4 linked regions of the Homo sapiens genome follow. The protein of the gene in region 1 purifies or fractionates together with the protein of each later gene. This does not show direct contact. Each region holds a gene or a part of one and is shown in the gene's direction. Other genes may lie near its edges.

What was found. Proteins that work in one complex are often made in the same cells at the same time.
Region 2: the proteins of ZBBX (region 1) and DHX32 purify together in Homo sapiens (affinity purification with mass spectrometry; 2 studies listed by BioGRID and IntAct, with this or other methods). This does not show direct contact.
Region 3: the proteins of ZBBX (region 1) and WDR62 purify together in Homo sapiens (affinity purification with mass spectrometry; 2 studies listed by BioGRID and IntAct, with this or other methods). This does not show direct contact.
Region 4: the proteins of ZBBX (region 1) and FZD3 purify together in Homo sapiens (affinity purification with mass spectrometry; 2 studies listed by BioGRID and IntAct, with this or other methods). This does not show direct contact.

What each region holds. Positions count from the first base shown.
Region 1 is NC_000003.12:167,241,213-167,245,125, reverse strand, and holds part of ZBBX (zinc finger B-box domain-containing protein 1), read left to right. Parts: intron 1-2,482; coding exon 2,483-2,621; intron 2,622-3,913.
Region 2 is NC_000010.11:125,874,314-125,879,249, reverse strand, and holds part of DHX32 (putative pre-mRNA-splicing factor ATP-dependent RNA helicase DHX32), read left to right. Parts: intron 1-4,936.
Region 3 is NC_000019.10:36,052,581-36,058,175, forward strand, and holds the start of WDR62 (WD repeat-containing protein 62), read left to right. Parts: upstream 1-2,316; 5' UTR 2,317-2,391; coding exon 2,392-2,568; intron 2,569-5,595. Other genes in the region: THAP8 (THAP domain-containing protein 8), read right to left, coding at 1,555-1,637. UniProt on the Homo sapiens protein: Required for cerebral cortical development. Plays a role in neuronal proliferation and migration.
Region 4 is NC_000008.11:28,499,755-28,504,690, forward strand, and holds part of FZD3 (frizzled-3 isoform 1 precursor), read left to right. Parts: intron 1-178; 5' UTR 179-224; intron 225-2,915; 5' UTR 2,916-3,259; coding exon 3,260-3,448; intron 3,449-4,936. UniProt on the Homo sapiens protein: Receptor for Wnt proteins.

The sequences.
Region 1 (3,913 bases):
GTCTTTAATATTAGGATGTAGATATGTAGCTATTCTAGATAGTCCTTTAGAGTTGTTGTTGTTGTTCCTTATTGGGAAATAGCCTCTCTGATTGGTTCTCATTCTTTGAAGTTTTTATATTTCTTTCTTTAGTGTTTTATTTCATGTAAGTGCTTATTTATCTATGGAATATAGTTTTATGTATGTGTTTTAAATGACTTCAGTTTTAGAAATGCACCTTAGAACTCTATATTTTATCTATTTTTTTTCTCCTTAGTCTAATTGCTATTATTTTTAAAGAGATTCCTCAATGATCAGAGAAGGTACTCTTACTCCAGGGATAGAAAAGGTTTAACTATAATTTATTTCTCAACAATCAACTGACTTGCCAGTTGTAACTTTTCTAATATAAATGTTAATCCTGTCTTACCTGGTGCTGAATTAGAAAAATCAGCAGACAGATTTGTGTACAATTGACCTTTTGAGTTTAACACTAACCTACAATAGGGTTGTTATGAGCAGTTTTATTTTTCTCTGCCTTGATTTTTCTGTTACCTAAAATCAAGTGGTATCACCTTTGTTCCTGTTAACTTTACAGGTATTCTGAAATATAATTTTGAGAATAAATAGTTCTAGAAAAATAGACTCATTCTATTTGCACAACTCGGAACAGCTTTATGCTCATTCAATTAGCTCAAATGCATAATAGAGTTTGGATATCTCACCTGCTGGTATTCTTTAGATCAAAGCATTGCTGTTGGGTTTCAGTACTGTAATTCTACCAGTTCCAAATCCTGAATTTACTGCTTTCTTGTGGGAGCATTCCCTTTCATTAGGACATGTAAAGGTGCCTTGGGTCTTCTTTTACCATACGGAAAAATAGGAGAGAAGATAATAGCTTAAAGCTAAAGAATTAGATTCTGGAACAGAGTGATTTACAATATTGGTGAGCTACCAGAGATTAGTTCTAGTTTCAGCTCTTCCACTATATGGCCGTGTGACTTTCAGCAAGTTATTAGTTCTTCATGGGCCCATAATTCCCTGATCTCTAAGTGAAGATGGAAGTAATTAGGAGGTTTAAAAAATTTTAACTAAAAAATCTTTTGTCTTTTTCAAAATTAATCTTATATAGAGCCCCTAAATTTAGATCAGGTAAAGTCCTGATTGCTGAGGATATGGTGGGAGCAGGAACCAAATCCTAAGCTTATTGAACGTACCCATGCATCATGATTTCAAAGTCAAGGGGCTAAACAAATTTAGGGACACTTCCATGTGTAAATTTATTGAGGTCTATTTTTCAGTGGGAATAATCTGATTTACTTTCAGTAGGGAAATCTCTATTTGCTCAAAAATGTCAAGTTGATACTAACCACCAAAAAAAAAAAAAAAAAAAAAAAAGTCAAGTCCACTGTAGAACACATGTATGTTGATGTTTGGTTCCTGTGACCAGGAGGAGGTTTATTTGGTCCTCTCATAAAAGTAAAGGGCTTTGGAAGGCCGAGGTGGGCAGATCACGAGGTCAGGAGTTCAAGAGCAGCCTGACCAACATGGAGAAACCCCGTCTCTACTAAAAATACAAAATTAGCCGGGTGTGGTGGCACATGCCTATAATCCCAGCTAGTTGGGAGGCTGAGGCAAGAGAATCATTTGAACCCAGGAGGCGGAGGTTGCGGTGAGCCAAGATCACACCATTGCACTCCAGCCCAGGCAACAAGACCGAAATTCTGTCTAAAAAAAAAAAAGGGAAGAATAGCAACCAGTAATTTTGACAGTTTTAACAGTCATCATAGTATAACTTTATGTATAAGTTAGGTGGCTCATTATAATTTCAGCAGTGAAAAAAGAAGGCATTGTAGCCTTTCTAATATACAATGATATTTAGTTACATACTTGAATTTTTGGTAGTTTATATGAAGATACATTTGCCTAAAGACTTTGTTTGTTTAACTTGCAGTATTTGTCCTTAGCTAGGCTAAATCATAAGCCAGCTTCATGAAAAGAAAAATTTAAGGCTTCTCTGCTTTCAAATATGAACAGTTATTATCTACTCAAACAAAGCAAGGAAGTCAAAAAAGAAAGAGCAACTTTGCCAAGGCTAATCTTTCCCTTAGACTGTGTGGGAGTAAAGCTTTTATTTCTTATAAGAAAAAAGATAACAAAATGTCCAACAGGTTGAGTGGCTGCAAAATATTGTAGCTTTAAAGGGGGTCATTTGATTTTTTTTTTGAAATTTTATGAGGTCTCAGGACATTTGACACATGTTATAAATGTAATGTATATTTACAAATCAATATGATAAAAATGACTTGCTACCCATGCCCCAATTTGGAATCTCAAATCAAACTTACCTCACAAACATTAGAAAATTGAGGAATAATTAAAAATCTATGCTGACCTTCTTTGTATTGCCTGTAATTTACTCTGGGTAAACATTCAGCACCATATGCTGTATATTTGTTTCTTGAATTTATGTTTTGACAATGCATGAAATAAAATATTTCAGATACTTCAGAAAAGCTTTACAGCTTAACCTCAGAAGAGTTCCCAGATTTCAGCAGCCAATCACTGAATATAAGTCAGATTTCCACAGATTTCCTTAAGACCTCACATGTGAGGGGTCCCTGTGGAGTTGAGGAATTGAGGTAAGTTAAGCCTGCAGTTTATTTATTAATATAGTATGTAGTAAAATTTTGACAAGCTCCAACTAGTTATCTTTATTATATATAGAAAGATTGTCCTCATGTGTATACTTTATATGATCATTCTTTATAGAATGTTTGGGTCCTTTGCTGATCTATTATCGAGATTTAGTAAAAGGCTTATAAAGTTGTTACTTTAATGTGAAGAGATCATTCTCTACTGTACAATATGTATCATAAAAATGAAAAGATATTTGGAATATAATAATCCTTCAGCATTTCTTATTATATTGAAAATCAATGGCCTTATTTGAATTAATTAACCTAATAAATGTCAATACTTTGTATTAATAGAATCCTACCCAATGTGAATAAGGTTTTTAGAATCAAATAGTAAGTTTCTTTCTTGAAATCAAGCCTAGAAAATTAACAATAACATATTTTAATTTGTATGATATCATTCTTTCCTCACATAAAATACATTTAGGGATGGTCAGATCAGCTTACAAGGAATGTAGGTTATACTAGTAAATGTTTCAGAAAAGTAGTCTATTGTTTCAGTCTATTATTGACACACTGCAATTCCTTGAAGAAGGAGCAGGATTTCTTCTAGAAAGACTAAAATAAGTATAAAATAAGTTATTTGTATTGTAAATTTCTTTGATTGAAATTTAATTGAAATCTGATACTGCAGTAAAAAGGGAATCAGGAGTTTCTTATTCTTTCTGGAAGAGGAAATCATTGAGTTGTTGTTCTTGGTTTTTACATTTCTTTCTCTTGTAAAAAAATTTTTTAAGACAGGGTATCAACATGTTGCCTAGGTAGGTCTGAAACTCCTGGGCTCAGGCTATCCTGCTTCAGCCACTTAAACAGCTGGGACTACTCAGGCCACTGCACTCAGCCTGGATTTTTGCATTTCTATTATCATTTATATTTGTTTAAAGGATCAATGTAAGATTGATATTTTCTTCCCTTAGATAAATCATTAAAAACAAACTACACCTACAAGTATTCTCATCATTCATAAAACAAATGACATTCAATACTAAAAATATAAGGGGACCTTACTAACAGAATAAGGTGCCCCCTGCTGCCACCAATAAAATGCAACAAAATAAAATAACAAACAAATGCCGTCATTAATTTTTGCTTCAGCATATCTTGACTGGCTATCTACATAGTCCTAATTTACAGTATACAAAAGAGATGATTTATCTGGCAGTCTATTCACTGGGATTCTATTAAACAGCCAATGTGATGATGAATGTTCTTAATGATGACCCTGAGGCTCTGCA
Region 2 (4,936 bases), on another chromosome or scaffold:
CAGTTTGAGACCAGGCTGGGCAACATGGCAAGATCCCAACTTTATAAAAAATTAAAAAATTAGCTGGGCATGGTGGTGCGTGCCTGTGGTCCCAGCTACCCAAGAGGCTGAGGCAGAAGGATCACTTGAGCCCATGAGGTCAAGGCTGCAGTGAGCCATGTTCATGCCACTGTACTTCAGCCTGGGCAACAGAGCAAGACCCCGTCTCAAAAAAAAAAAAAAAAAAAAAAAAAACAAGAAAAGGCTGGGCGCTGTGGCTCATGCCTGTAATCTCAGCACTTTGGGAGGCCGAGACGGGCAGATCATGAAGTCAGGAGTTCGAGACCAGCCTGTCCAATATGGTGAAACCCTGACTCTACTAAAAAATACAAAAATTAGCTGGGCATGGTGATGCACACCTGTAGTCCCAGCTCCTTGGGAGGCTGAGGCAGGAGAATCACTTGAACCCAGGAGGTGGAGGTTGCAGTGAGCTGAGATTGTGTCACTGCACTCCAGCCTGGGTGACAGAGTAAGACTCCATCTCAAAAAAAAAAAGAAAACAAAACAAAACAAAAAAAAACACCAAGAAAAACAAGGTAGTGTAGAGAAGGAAAAAGTAATAATTTTCTCTGTCCTTCATAACTCTTATCTGAGGCTCCCTGTAACAAAAGACAAATTAACAGAAGAAAAACAGAAGTGTATTAATATGTATGCCTCATGTATACACGGGAAAACCCCAGAGAAATGAGCAAGTCTCTAGAGTAGATCTCAAAGAAAGCATTTAAATTTTGGGCTTAAATACCATCATTCTCTGAAACAAAGTAAAAAAGGTTGTGGGGAACAACCCTGTTAAGATGAGATGGCCAGGAAAAGCACCTTAAATGAAGGTGAAGTTTGTTATGAAGATGTAAGTCGATGTCTTCTTTACTTAGTCATCTCCTCCTGTTGCAGAGAGGGAGATGCCCTTATAAGCAGAGATTTCTTGTATAGGCACAAATTTATCTTTAAAAAGGTAACTTTTCAGAGCTACTCCTATGTCTACACTTTCTCAAAATGTGCAAAGGAGGCATATTTTGGGGTCACATATTCTGGTCTCCTTCAGTCATATTCTGGGGAGGTATGTCCTGAGCCCCAACATTAGATAGTTAATAAATACTTATTATTCAGTTTGTTGTTGTATTTGGACTTCAAGTTTTTGTTCAAGTGAGATCCATATTTTACTCTTAAGTTTTAAAGCAAGCAACCAGTATTTTTATCATGAAATTCATTTCTAGATTCTCGCGATGTAAGAATTAGAATAGACCATATAGTGTGAATAATAAGAAGTCCCATTTCTCATAGAGAAGTTACGAATAGATCTAGTAGAATAGACTATGCTCTAATAGAATAGAATTAGAAACTGATGGAACCCCTTCATTTTTCAGATGAATAAACTGTGGCCCAGAAGGATTTGATAATTTGTCTATCTAATGTCAGTAGCTTTCTGAATTGGAGTTAAAAGAATATTTTCTACTATAAATTGTTGCTTTCAAGTTGTTTATTATCTCTAGAGTTTACCTATTTTATTATCACTATTATTTTTTGAGACAGAGAGGCTCGTTCTGTCACCCAGGCTGGAATGCAGTGGGGCAGTCTTGGCTTACTATGACCTCCGTCTCCCGGTTCAAGCAATTCTTGTGCCTCAGCCTCTTGAGTAGCTGGGATTACAGGCATGCACCATCATGCTTGGCTTATTTTTGTATTTTTAGTAGAGTCAGGGTTTCACAATTTTGGCCAGGCTGGTCTCGAACTCCTGGGCTCAAGCGATCCTCCCACCTTCACCTCCCAAAGTGCTGGGATTACAAACATGAGCCACTGTACCTGCCCTAAAGTTAACTTACTTTAAAGGTAATTTGAAAAGAGGAGGGCTGGACAACAGATGTTTTTTATCTGATTTACAGCTGCCAGTATCAAAGGTTTATTATGATTTGTTCTTTGTTACGCTGTTATTGTTATAACAAACGATTTCAGTTCATTACGAGAAGCTAACGATGAGAACTGACTGAGTATAATTTTCCTAGTTTCTGTGGACAAATAACATTGAAAAAATGTGTTTTTATTTTACAATAATTTCAAACTTACAAAAAGTTGCAAAAATAGTACAAAGATTTTCCATATGTTGTTCACCCAGATTCCCCAAATGTAAGATTTTACCATATAAACTTTATCTTTCCCTCCCTGCCCCCTCCATACATTCATACACATTTTTATTCTGAACCATTTAGGGGTAGGTTGAGGACATGATGCCCTTTGCCTCCAAATACTTAACAGAGTATTTATTTACTGAAAAACAGTGTGTAGCCGTAACATAATTATCAAAATCTGGAATGTAATGTTGATATCTAATTATTATCTGATTTCTAGACATTCACATTTAATCAGTTTCCCATTGATAGCCTTTATAATCACTGAAAAAAATTGTTTTTCTGGTCCAAAATCCAATCTAAAATTGCATTGTATTTTATTGTCGTTTTTTAATCTGACACAACTCCCCAGTCTCTCCCTGTCCTTTATGACTTTGACATTTTTGAAGAGCACAGGTTATATATTCTGCAGAACCTCCCTCAGTTTGAACATGTCTGATGTTTCCTTAGGGTTAGGTTCCGGCTCTGCATTTGTGGCAAGAAGATCACACAAGTGCTGTGTATCCTTCTCAGTGCCTCATATCAGGAGGCACAAGATGTCAGTTTTGCCCATGCTGGTGATGTTAATTCTGATCCCTTGGTAAGGTGGTATCTGCCTGGTTCTTTATTGAAAAGTTAACAATTTCCCTCCAATCATTTAATAGATACATATTTTGAAAGTATGTAAATGTTTCTCATTATACATTTGTAACCACCCAATGGGTTCATCTTGTTTGTTGTCAAGATAGAGCCAATTTATCAAGACAAGGGAATTGAAATAGAGAATGAATTTAATACACATAAAGCTGGCTAAACAGCAGACAGGAGTTGTACTATTACTCCAATCAGCCTCTTTGTCAATTTGGAGGCTAGAGTTTTTCAAGGATAGTTTGGTGGGCAGGGGGCTAAGGAATGGGTACTGCTGATTGGCTGAGGATGCAATCACAGAGGTGTGGAAAACAGTCCTCATGTGCTGAGTCCACTTCTGGGTAGGGACAACAGAGGAGTTACTGGTCTATCCAGTTATAGGGCCTCCAGTTGTCAGAAATACAAAAACCTGAAAAGACATCTCAGAAGGCCAATCTTAGGTTCTATAATAGTGATGTTATTTACAGGGAGGTTACAAATCTTGTGACCTCTGGAATAATGACTGGTAATCATTTAACTACACCTACATCTTGGCAGAATTCAGGCCCCTCTCATCCTCCTAACCTGGTGTCCTTTCATTAGTTTTACAAAGGCAGTTTCATTTTGCTGTCATCATTTAAACTATAAACTATCTACAAAAGTTAGCTTGGCCCACTGCAGGAATGGCTAAGGGAGTTTGGGGGTGAAAGGCAAGATGGAGTTGTCAGGTCAGATCTCCTTCACCATCATAATTTTCTCACTGTTACAATTTCTGCAAAGGCAGTTTCACATTCATCCACTAGTGTTAGCATTTTTGGTGATTCTTACCTTTGAATTATTACATTAGTAGTAACCAAAGATGATTATTCTAATTCTGACATGCCTTCTACACATTATTTAGAATCTTTCTGTAAGTCTGAGCTTTCTCTCCTTCATCATTTATTTATGTCAATGTGGACTCATAAATTCTTATTTTATTCTATGGGTTATAATGTATTACTAAGCCTACTTACTTTGTTGTTCAAATTGCCCCCAATGTGGCTTCTCTGTCCTTTTGACATTTCCCCATTATTGAGCACTTCTTTGCTTTCTGGCTCAGTAAGATGTTCCAGGTTCATCTAGTACATTCCGCATGCCGGTGTAGAAACCATTTTTTTTTTCTCCAGGAGTCCTTGTTCCGTTTAGTGGTGAACTGTGTTTTGAAACCAAGATCTGGACACTAAGTACCTATTACCATTGGTTTATCATTGCAATTTTTTTTTTGAGACAGTGTTTCATTCTGTCACCCAGGCTGGAGTGCAGTGGCATGATCACGGCTCACTGCAACCTCAACATCCTGGGCTCAAGTGATCCTCCCACCTCAGCCTTTAGAGTAGCTGGGACTACAAGTGTGTGCCACTACACTCAACTAATTTTTGTATTTTTTATAGAGACGGGGTTTTGTCATGTTGCCCAGGTTGGTCTCGGACTCCTGGGCTCAAGCAACCTACCTGCCTTGGCCTCCCAAAGTGCTGGGATTATAGGCCCACTTCACCCGGCCTATCATTGCTTTTAGGCCATCTCAGTGGACACAACAAGGAAATAAATGTATGTGAGTGCAATATACACACGTCTCATTCTATCCATCTATTTGTGGCTCTGTTTCTCTCTGTCTTTCTCTATTTTTATGTATTTCTATTTTCTTACCTCTCATATTTTTTATCTCTCTTTCTATATCTTAAAAACCATGAGTTTGTACTGATGCCTCTGATTCCAGTTTAGCACTACAGGGTTTATTCTAGCCTTCCCAGTTTTCATATCCATAACTTCTCTATGAGAAACAGGGCTTCGTGTTATTCACACTATCTTTACCTGTTCTCAGATTGAACAAGTAAAGATACTCAAAAGAACAATTCATATTGTAGTTTCAGAATTGCTAATCCACACTGCAGTTTAAAAAATTTTTTTAATCTACTTCTTGAGTTTTAGAATTTATCATCTTCAAGAGCAAGAATTGTTATATGTTATATGTTATATTAATACCTAGCAATGGTTTCTCTTGTCATTTTTAATTTCTCAATTATTTCAATGAATTAGGCTTATTTTCTGTTAATTGGGACGACATGTATCTTCAAAGTGAGAAAAATCAAAATGGTACTCAAATAAGAAAATGGATCTATCCTAAACTA
Region 3 (5,595 bases), on another chromosome or scaffold:
CAAAGCAAATCAGAACTGTGTGTAAAGGGATCAATATCAGGTCCGGATGGTGAAGTGGGCCCAGGGTTTGTCTTCTCAGATGCAATAAAGTTTACATAGATGTAGAATATTGTGTCCTTATCTGAAGCTCCAAACCTGGATTGTAAATAGGGACTGCTTTTCTGTGTCAAAGTGACTTAGCTCCTCCAAGCAAAAGTGAGATGTTTCATTCTTACTTGATGTGATTTCAAACAGCAAAGTTTGTGATCATCTCTGACTTTAGACAACCAAAGTTTCCTACTAAGAAAGCAGTAGACACTCAAAGGATGGGAATTCTGCCACTTTACATCTGCAGTATGTCCAAGAGAAATATTTTTTCCTGGCTGGGTGCAGTGGCTCACGCCTGTAATCCAAGCACTTTGGGAGGCCGAGGCAGGAGGACTGCTTGTGCCCAGGAGTTTGAGACTAGACTGGACAACATAGGGTGATCCCATCTCTCTCTTTAAAAACAAAATTTTTTTTTTTGAGACGGAGTCTCACTCTTGTTGCCCACGCTGGATTGCAGTGGCCTCATCTTGGCTCACTGCAACCTCTGCCTTCTGGATTCATGCGATTCTCCTGCCTCAGCCCACGGAGTAGCTGGAATTACACGCATGAGCCACCACGCCCATCTAATTTTTGTATTTTTAGTAGACACGGGGTTTCACCATGTTGGCCAGGCTGGTCTCGAACTCCTGACCTCAGGTGATCTGCCCGCCTCGGCCTCCCAAAGTGCTGGGATTACAGGCGTGAGCCACCAAGCCTGGCAAAAAAAAAAAAAAAAAAAAAAAAAAAAAAAAATTTAAATTATCCAGGCATGGTGGCGCGTGCCTCTGGTCCCAGCTACTTGGTAGGGTGAGGTGGGAGGATCACTTGAGCCCGGGAGGTCGAGGTTGCAGTGAGCTGTGATCGTTCCACTGCATTCCAGCCTGGGCGACAAAGCGATCTTGTCTCAAAAAAAAAAAAAAAAAAAAGCAAAGAAATGTTTTTTCCTAGTAATTCTTCCACCAACTGGCTTATGTCAGCCAGATAAATAAGGAGACAGATCTTTTACAGTCGAAGCTAATTCTGACTTTCCCAAGTATGACGAAAGAGGTAAGGATGACATTTTTTAAACCTAAGCAACAAGAAGAATGAAGCACGCTACTAAGATAAGACAGACTGGAAGGTTTTGGGGAGACACGATCGCAAGCTCAGTTTCGGATGCTCTGAGTTTCAGATGGCTCAAATGCGTGGGGAGGGCAAGTGGGCATCTGCAGGCTCTCTAACAGCCTGCACCGACTTCACTTCTTACATCCCTTTCACTCTTCGGCTCGCTTCGCTCGCTATCTGTAGTCAATCGTCTACTCCTGTTTCCCACGCCTGCACCTTTGTATGTGCAATGGACACTGCCAGGAAGGCCATCTCCTCATGGTTTAACCCCACTTCCTAACACCCTCAAGCAAGACCAGAAGCCCCGCACAGCAGCACTAATGCTCGGGCCCCACCCCTCTCAGGGTCCCGCCTCCCTCAAGCCCCGCCCCGCGCTGCGCTCACTTGTAGAAGCTCACAGGGCGGTTGTCTGCACCCAGGCGGCCCGCAGTGTTGGAGCAGTTCGGCGCCCTGCAGTACTTGGGCATGGCTATCCAGCCCCCGCTGAGTTTTGCCGGGTCAGCGGCTGCACTTTGGTTCTCGCGGAGCGCCGCCTAACCCCGCCCCACCCGCGCTCGCCGCCTGCCTCACGTGACGTCCGTGGAGTCTCGTCACGTACCGGGGAGAGAGCTGAGAGCGCCTGCCTACTAGGCGCCCCTCCACAGTGCCACAGTCCCGCCCTCGTCACGTGACGAATGGGCCATAGCGAGTACTGTGCACCTGCGCAAAGCCGGCCCTTCGTCACCCCGACTTTCATCACGTGTTGGGGGGAAGGGCGGCGTCACGGCGTTTCTGAGCCTGCGCCAACCAAATCAACTGGCTAGTCAATCTCTTACGGCTCCACCCTACGCCTACATCCGGGCAACCGTTGGGGCGCACATAGTTCCTCTAGGTGGCGGCAAAAACCGAGGTGAGGCGGCCGTGGCCTTAGCCTCGTAAAAATTAAAACCTGTATGTTTCAGCGAATAATGAAAACGCAGTCTGGATGAAAGACCCCATGACGCTTAATCAGGCATCCAGTACACTGGCTGTGGCCCCGCCCCGCCAGGCACTCGCTCCGCCTCTTCGCCCCCATTGGTTCTAAGCGCCGCCCGGCATCCCTGCGATTGGCTAGGCCGGGCCCGTCGCGTCCAATAGGCGGTGGCGCCGGCTTTCCCGCGGCTGTTCGCTGTTCCAGTGGGTCGTGGCGGTGGCGGCAGCGGCGGTTAGGGGATGTAACGGTCGCCCGCCTCCGGCGTGACGATGGCGGCCGTAGGGTCCGGAGGCTATGCGCGGAACGATGCAGGGGAGAAGCTGCCCTCTGTCATGGCGGGAGTTCCGGCGCGGAGGGGCCAGTCCTCCCCGCCCCCCGCCCCACCAATCTGCCTACGGCGGCGGACGCGACTCTCGACGGCCTCCGAGGAGACGGTGCAGAACCGGGTGAGAAGCTGCTCGCCATGTCTACCCCAGTTCCAGGCTTCCTAGGTTTCCCCTAGTCCCGTCCTGAGAACTGTGGCCCCGACATCAGCCCCCGGCCAGTCCCCTCAGGTTGTTCCCTGCCATGCCTCGTCCCCTAACCCCCGCCCCTTTAGCCACGGCCCCTCCCACTTTCTCCTCGCTGCTTTCCCGGCTCCACCCTCAGCGTTGGAGCAATTCGGGGGTTCCTCGCTGGTTCCCACCCGTGGAAATGCATTTTGCTTCTGTAAATCACAGCCTAGTCCTGCTATATTTTAACCCCCGTTCTATCGCCTTTAGACGTCACGATCATAGCTCACTGCAGCCTCACTGCCCTGGCCCCCGCTGAGTCATTAAGGTCCCTTCGAGGGTTCGGTCCAGAGTGTTACCTGCCCCAACTCTTCCTCGCTTCTACCCCGCCTTCTCTCACCTTCTGCGATCTCTATCCTTTTTCCTCACCAAGGTGGGATTCTTAATCCATATTGTCACTCAAAACTATGAGAAAGACGTGAGAAGTTATTTATAAAATCTCTGCAGTGCTGCCTGGGGAGGAGGGCGTACAGAACAGTTCCCTAAATCCTGAGACAGAAAAATGGAAAGAAATGATTTCACAGTAGGTAGAAGGAATTCCATTAGCACAGCGGCAATTAAAAAAATTGTTTTCCAGCTGTGTAGGCACAAAATCTGTTTTTATAAAATGGAGATGATAAGAACCATACTACTGGTAGGGCGCGGTAGCTCACGTCTGTAATCCCAGCACTTTGGGAGGCCAAGGTGGGCTGTTCACCTGAGATCAGTTCAAGACCAGCCTGGCCAACATGGTGAAACCCGTCTCTACAAAAAGTAGAAAAATTAGCCCGGCATGCTAGCGCGCGCCTGTAATCCCAGCTACTCAGGAGGCTGAGGCGGGAGAAATCGCTTGAACCTGGGAGGCGGAGGTTGCAGTGAGCTGAGGTCATGCCACTGCACTCCAGCCTGGGCGACAGAGTGAGACTCTGTCTCAAAATAAATAAATAAATAAATTATACTATTGCATTGGAGGGAAATGAAATTTTAATTGTGATCTTCTTGGCACGGAGTCCAGATAAAGGGAGGATACCTGGTAGCTGCTGGTGGAGCTTGTTCCTGCCCCATGACTTTCTCCTGCACTGTGATTATACCGCCCACTCCTGGCTACAGGGCTCTGGCTGTACCTCCCATGTGCTCTCTGTCACCAAGGTTCAGTCACACTGGCCTGCTTTTGGTTTTCCTGAGGCTCCATATTCTTTTCTGCCTCCTGGCCTTTGTGATTGGTGAGTCCTCAGCCTGGGCTTTTTGCTGCAATCTGCCTGTCTGGCTCCTTCCCATCCTTCAAGTCTCAGCCTGAATGTCGCTATCTTGAAAGGCCTTCTCGAACCCCATTCTAAAGCAAACAGCCACCTTCATCTGTCACCCAGCACCCTATACTTCATAGCCTTTATCTTATATGTTCCTGAAAGTGCCCTTTGAGCTATTAAACTACATATAACAATAGCAAATTCAGAGAGGCGTTATAGCAAAGTGGCTAAGAGCACAGACTGCTGCTGATGGTATGGTTGGACCCAGGCAGCCTGAGCTTAAACTTTAGTCCTGTTCTTCCTGGCAGGTTATGAACTTCGCTTTTTCTTTTCTTTTTTTTTTTTTTTGAGATGGGGTCTTACTCTGTCATCCAGGCTGTAGTGCACTGGGTTGATCTCGGCTCACTGCAGTCTCAGCCTCCCTGGGCTCAGGTGATCTTCCTGCCTCAAGCCTCCTGAGTAGCTGGGACTGCAGGCGCATGCCACCATACCTGACTAATTTTTTTGTGTTTTCTGGTAGAGACAGGGTCTCGCCGTGTTGGCCAGGCTGGTCTTGAATTACTGAGCTCAAGCGATCTGCCTGCCTCGGCCTCCCAAAGTGCTAGGATTACAGGCGTGAGCTACTGTGCCCCGCCAAGTTATGAACTTATCTGTGCCTCAGTTTTCTTATCTGTAAAATGAGAATAATGATGTAGAAATCTCTCATAGGGTATTTGTGAGGATTCAATGAGGTTACATATCCTAGGCACTTAGAACAACACTGGCATATGGCAAGTACTCTATTCATGTTAGCTAATACTGATATTATGACTGTGTATTTGGGGTAATATTTATTTATTTTTTTTGTTTGGCAGCACAGAGTTGATCTGTCTTGCAAAGACCTAGTCTAAAAGTGACCATTCATACCAGGGCCCAGTAATGCTGATCGACAGATAAGACAACATGAGTGCCATGGCTTGGTTGTTTGTGTTGGAATCCTGGCACTACCCCTTCCTGGATGGGTAACCCCTCTTGGCCTCTGTTTCCTCAACTGTTTTGTTCCTTTTTTTTTTTGAGACAGAGTCTCACTCTGTCGCCCAGGATGGAGTGCAATGGTGCCATCTCAGCTCACTGCAACCTCCGCCTCCTGGGTTCAAGCGATTTTACTGCCTCAGCCTCCTGAGTGCCTGGGATTATAGGCATGGGCCACCACACCTGACTAATTTTTTTGTATTTTTAGTAGAGACAGGGTTTCGCCATCTTGGCCAGGATGGTCTCAAACTCTTGACTGAGCCACCACACCCAGCCTTGTTTAAATTTTAAATATTACTGTTCATGTGGTTTTTTACTCGTTGAAACCGCTCAAATTTCTGGACTGTGAATCTGATGTGGGGAAACTGTCTACCTTTGGTCACTACTGTGTCTCTCCTGTACAGCCCAAAGTGCTAGCTTTGGAGCCAGACTGCCTGGGTTTGTATATCAACATTGCCACTTGCAGATGTAGGATCTTGGGCCTCAGACTTCTTACCTGTAAAACAGGGGTGATAATAGAGCCTTCTTCGTGGCTTGTTGGGAGGATTCAAGTCTTTTATACATATAAAAGTACTAAGAGGCCGGGCACAGTGGCTCATGCCTGTAATCCTAGCACTTTGGGAGGCCGAGGCGGGTGTATCACCTGAGGTCAGGAGTTCGAGGCCAGCCTGGCCAACATGGTGAA
Region 4 (4,936 bases), on another chromosome or scaffold:
TGAAGTTGAATATCTTTTCATATGTTTCTTGGCTGTTTGTATTTCTTTTGTAAATTTATGTCCTTTGCTTATTTTTCTATTAAAATGTTATCCCCTATCTGCTTTTATTTTTAAAATTCATTTACTGTATATAATTACATAAACAATACCTTTATTCTTTTTAATTATTCTGTTCTAGGATAGCATTTCTCAAGACCTGACTTATGGAGCACTTGTAACCTGAGGTAATCATTAGAATGCATATCATTCTCCAGGATTCAGATTTCCAGGGGAATCCATGAATCTGCTACACTTTACGATTAGAGAACTGCTGTTTTGGGGGAAATGAAAATTCTTTAACACCTATACTTTACCTGTTTTCTTCATGTCTCACTGAATTCCACTGCTGTTTTTTCCCTTCTTTTAATAATCATAAACTGCAGTCTTGCTGTATCAAGATTCTTGTCCTTTCACAGCTTAACAGTAGATTTTACAAAAGCATCTTGGTACATGGTAATTTGAATGTCATAGTACATAAGGAAGCACTTTTATAAGAAGGTAGGATGCTTTACTTGCAAGTAAGGCAAAAGGAATAATCAAAAGGAAACCAGGTAAAATAGATGGAGTAGGCAGAAGTATAGGGGGACATTTCAGCTAGTTTTAAAGGCTCAGTGAGATATTGCTCAGTTTCTTCTTCAGGTTTTATGTGGTAGTCTTCTTTGAACCATTGATTTGAAACCCATACCTGCTTGAAAAATAGATTAGTTTAAATGAAATTTTTGAAATTCTTGTTGTTACTATATGCGTATTCAACAGGGAGTAATGTTCCCTTTAATTTTATTTAGTTGCAAGCAGATGAATATGCTGCATAAGTAATAAACTACAAAGACTGAACTTACATGGATGTTTTAATACTACAATCAAATAAAACTTTCAACAGTTACTTGACATATTTAGTGATATGCATAATTGTTACTGCGCTGCATGGTAATTAAGATAAATATGTTTTTAACTGTGGTTAATACCAGTTTTCTTTTTTTTTTCTGATGGAGTTTCGCTCTTGTTGCCCAGGCCTGGAGTGCAATGGCATGATCTCAGCTGACTGCAACCTCTGCCTCCCAGGTTCAAGCGATTCTTCTGCCTCAGCCTCCCAAGTAGCTGGGACTACAGGCGCCTGCCACCACGCCTGGCTAATTTTTTGTATTTTTAGTAGAGACAGGGTTTCACTATGTTGGCCAGGCTGGTCTTGAACTCCTGACCTCGTGATCCGCCTGCCTCGGCCTCCCAAAGTGCTGGGATTACAAGCGTGAGCCACTGCGCCCTGCCCAGTATCTGTTTTCTATAGGCAGATCTCAACATTTGTGGGGAGAAAAAGAAATATGGCAGGCCAAGAATCTGTTTCAGAAATTTCTGATGTAGAACATGAGGCGCTTTAGGGCTTTTTGAGCAGGGTTTGCTTTTACCTTAGTTTCCTAATTCTAGGGACCATAGACTTTTCTTTTCCCTTCTGTTAGTCAAGACCATCTACTAGAGGGAGAAATTGGGAAGATTCAGTCACTGTTTTACTTTCTCCAAATAGTTATCTGCCTAGTAACTGAAGCTTGGGACATGGAGTTCCCAGTCATTGATAGTTAATGCACAGAGGACAGTTTCTTTCCCCACTTAAGCCAAAGCAGTTCCAGGTCCCACAATCTAAGTTATCATAGGTGCTAGTATTTAAGTTGTCCTATTAGTCTGGGTCTTTGAGAATTTCTGAACCTGAATTTCTCTTTTCCTAACCTAGGCTCTCCACAACAAACATAAGACTATCCAATGCATATGAAACAAATTGAAATAAAAGCAAAGTTAACATCGTTACTAAACCAAATCAAAATGTGATAGCTTAGAATATACTTTTTTCATACCAGACCTGCCTTCCACTCCACCCACACCCTCTCAGCTGAAATTGAGAATCACACATATTTTTGCCCCTGGAAAAGTACATACAAGTCAGAAATTCTAAAGCTCTGTGGAAACAATAACTGGGAATTATTCTTATTTTTCCTGTGACTTTTTAGGGATGATTTCTATTCTCTGTGCAGCATGGCTGTGTGTAATGACCGTTCGTTGATGAAATATTTCTTAGTGCTACATCTGTGTTATTAAATTTTTGTACTGTCTAAAAAATAATATAATATTGTGAAGATTTCCTAATATTTTAGAACCTTCTATATGTCAGTTCAGTATTGGTTGATAGAGGTAGCATTTGTATAAACTAATTCAATGATTAAAATGTCTAACGCTTCATACTGCTTTACCATTTATAAAGTACTTTTGCATACATTATCTTATGATTCACTCATATCATCCCTGTGAGCTAGGTGGTATTGGAATCATTTTCAAGAAGAAAAATTCTAGGTACATAGAAGTTAAGTGGTATGTTTATATTCACACAGCTAGCAAGAGGCTTGAATCTGTATCTTTTGACTTACTTTTCAGACCACTTTCACAGATGCCTTCTGCTACATCAGTTAATACAAAAATATACTATTAAAGATTAAAACACATGCAATTTTAGTTCAATAATTTAGGTTATAAGCGTAATATTTATTATTTAAATAAAATTTAGGACAATAGCATAATAATTTTTCAAAATGAATCAATTATATATTGTGACGGATGAAAAACTGCCATTATACATGAGAAGTTGAACCATGTGTTATATAAGCAACTGAGGGATGAAATTAAATTTGCATTTAAATGCTGTTTAAGGATCATTTTAGTGTAGCTATAGCATAAATGATAAAGTAGAAAAATGATATCTTTATAAAGTACCCACATATTGTTAACTATTAGGTCAGTATAATATCTCTCATCAAAGATTTTTAATGTCAAGTCCATAATACTTTGAGAGGAAATGACTAATTTCTCCCATTTTTTAAAATAATACTTTTCAGATATTTCAGTTGAAGGAAGAAATAGCTCTTCTCCTAAGATGGAATCTGTGGTTTGGGAATGTGGTTGATCAACTTGATATGTTGGCCAAATGTGCCCCATGTAATAAAATGAAAAGAAGAGACAAGATGATGTCATTTTCCCATATTGTGAAACCAAAAACAAACGCCTTTTGTGAGACCAAGCTAACAAACCTCTGACGGTGCGAAGAGTATTTAACTGTTTGAAGAATTTAACAGTAAGATACAGAAGAAGTACCTTCGAGCTGAGACCTGCAGGTGTATAAATATCTAAAATACATATTGAATAGGCCTGATCATCTGAATCTCCTTCAGACCCAGGAAGGATGGCTATGACTTGGATTGTCTTCTCTCTTTGGCCCTTGACTGTGTTCATGGGGCATATAGGTGGGCACAGTTTGTTTTCTTGTGAACCTATTACCTTGAGGATGTGCCAAGATTTGCCTTATAATACTACCTTCATGCCTAATCTTCTGAATCATTATGACCAACAGACAGCAGCTTTGGCAATGGAGGTAAGACTTGATCTATTCTTTGACGTATCTTAGTAAATGACTCTTGTGTTGTCCCATCAGCCAATCTAATGAATGTGTTTGATAAACAACAGGAAAATAATATGCTATTTTAAATTATATCTTATAAATTTAAAAATGTATATGTTTTGCTTCAGACTCTAATAGATTGAAGAATTCACATTTGGTGAATGTTACTCTTATATTTTAGACATTATACTTTTATAAAGAAATTTGAAACATCAGAACATGGGAGATAGCAGCCATTCAGAAGTTTAAAATTTAAGAATAACTCCCAAGCAGTGAAAAAGTTTTTGTCAATGCGAATTATCTGTTCTTGATCTCTCAGAATTTTATGAAAGTTTGCTGCCTTATTTGAATTTTTCAGTGGTAATTCTTCAGACATTTCTTAATTATTTTAGTTTAGAAACTATTTCAAATTTAGAAACTATGGACACATTAATTGATATAGTTAATAATAGGTTTAAATAAGGGTATATCTGTCTATAATGGTTTTAGAATTGAGGACAGGGATATATATACCAGATAAGAACTAGCAGGCAGTAAGCAGTGGTGGTAATGACCATAGGCTTTGAGGTAGACAAACCTGGGTTTGAATTCTACCTCTACCACTTTCTAGCTGTATACTTTGGCCACGTTATATGAACTTTCTCACCATAGTTTCTTTGCTTGTAACTTAGAGACTTCAGTAAGGTACAAAGTGAAAATCCATGTATAGTACTTGGCGCATAGTAAGTACTCTATAAGTGATAGCTTTTACCGTTAATTCATATTCTCATATTAACGTGGTTACATAACATAATTTAGAGGGAATGTTTGATACATTACTCTTCAGCCTATTTCCATAGCGCTTTCAGCAAATGGAAGCCTACATGTTTTGGAATTCTTCATTTTATAATAAAACCGAAAAGTTCATCATTTTAAGGGAGACTAACCTAAGTCTAAGAAAATTTGTAAGATTATTATTCATAGATTTTGAAATAAGGAGGGCATCTTATATATTCCAAATATTTGAAAATGCTGTAGAGGTTGAACAAAACATTTTTTGCTTTTCCTCTGAGTACACGAGGTCTAAGTGGTTGAAGAGAGAGAATTGGTATAGGCTATCAGATTAGGATATATAAAAATGGGTATTGGTTTAATACAGTAAGTTGGTTCCAGGCATGGTAGTCTTTGCTATGTATTAAAGCTATCAATTTCTCACAGAAAATTGAACTAGAAACATTTTTATTTCTGGTATCATTTTAAATCATAACTCCTTTGGGAAGCAAATAGGTTAATAAGAAGCAGGTCATAAAGATGTTTGTCCTGACTTGGGTTCAACTTTTGGCTCTGCCATGTAGTAGGTTTAAGACTTTGGACAGGTTACTTAACACTCCTGATCTTTGTTTTCTTCATTTGTGAAAAGGCAGTATAATGATACACCTTGAAGGGCTGTTAGGATTAAATAAGAGATTTATGAAGTAGCTA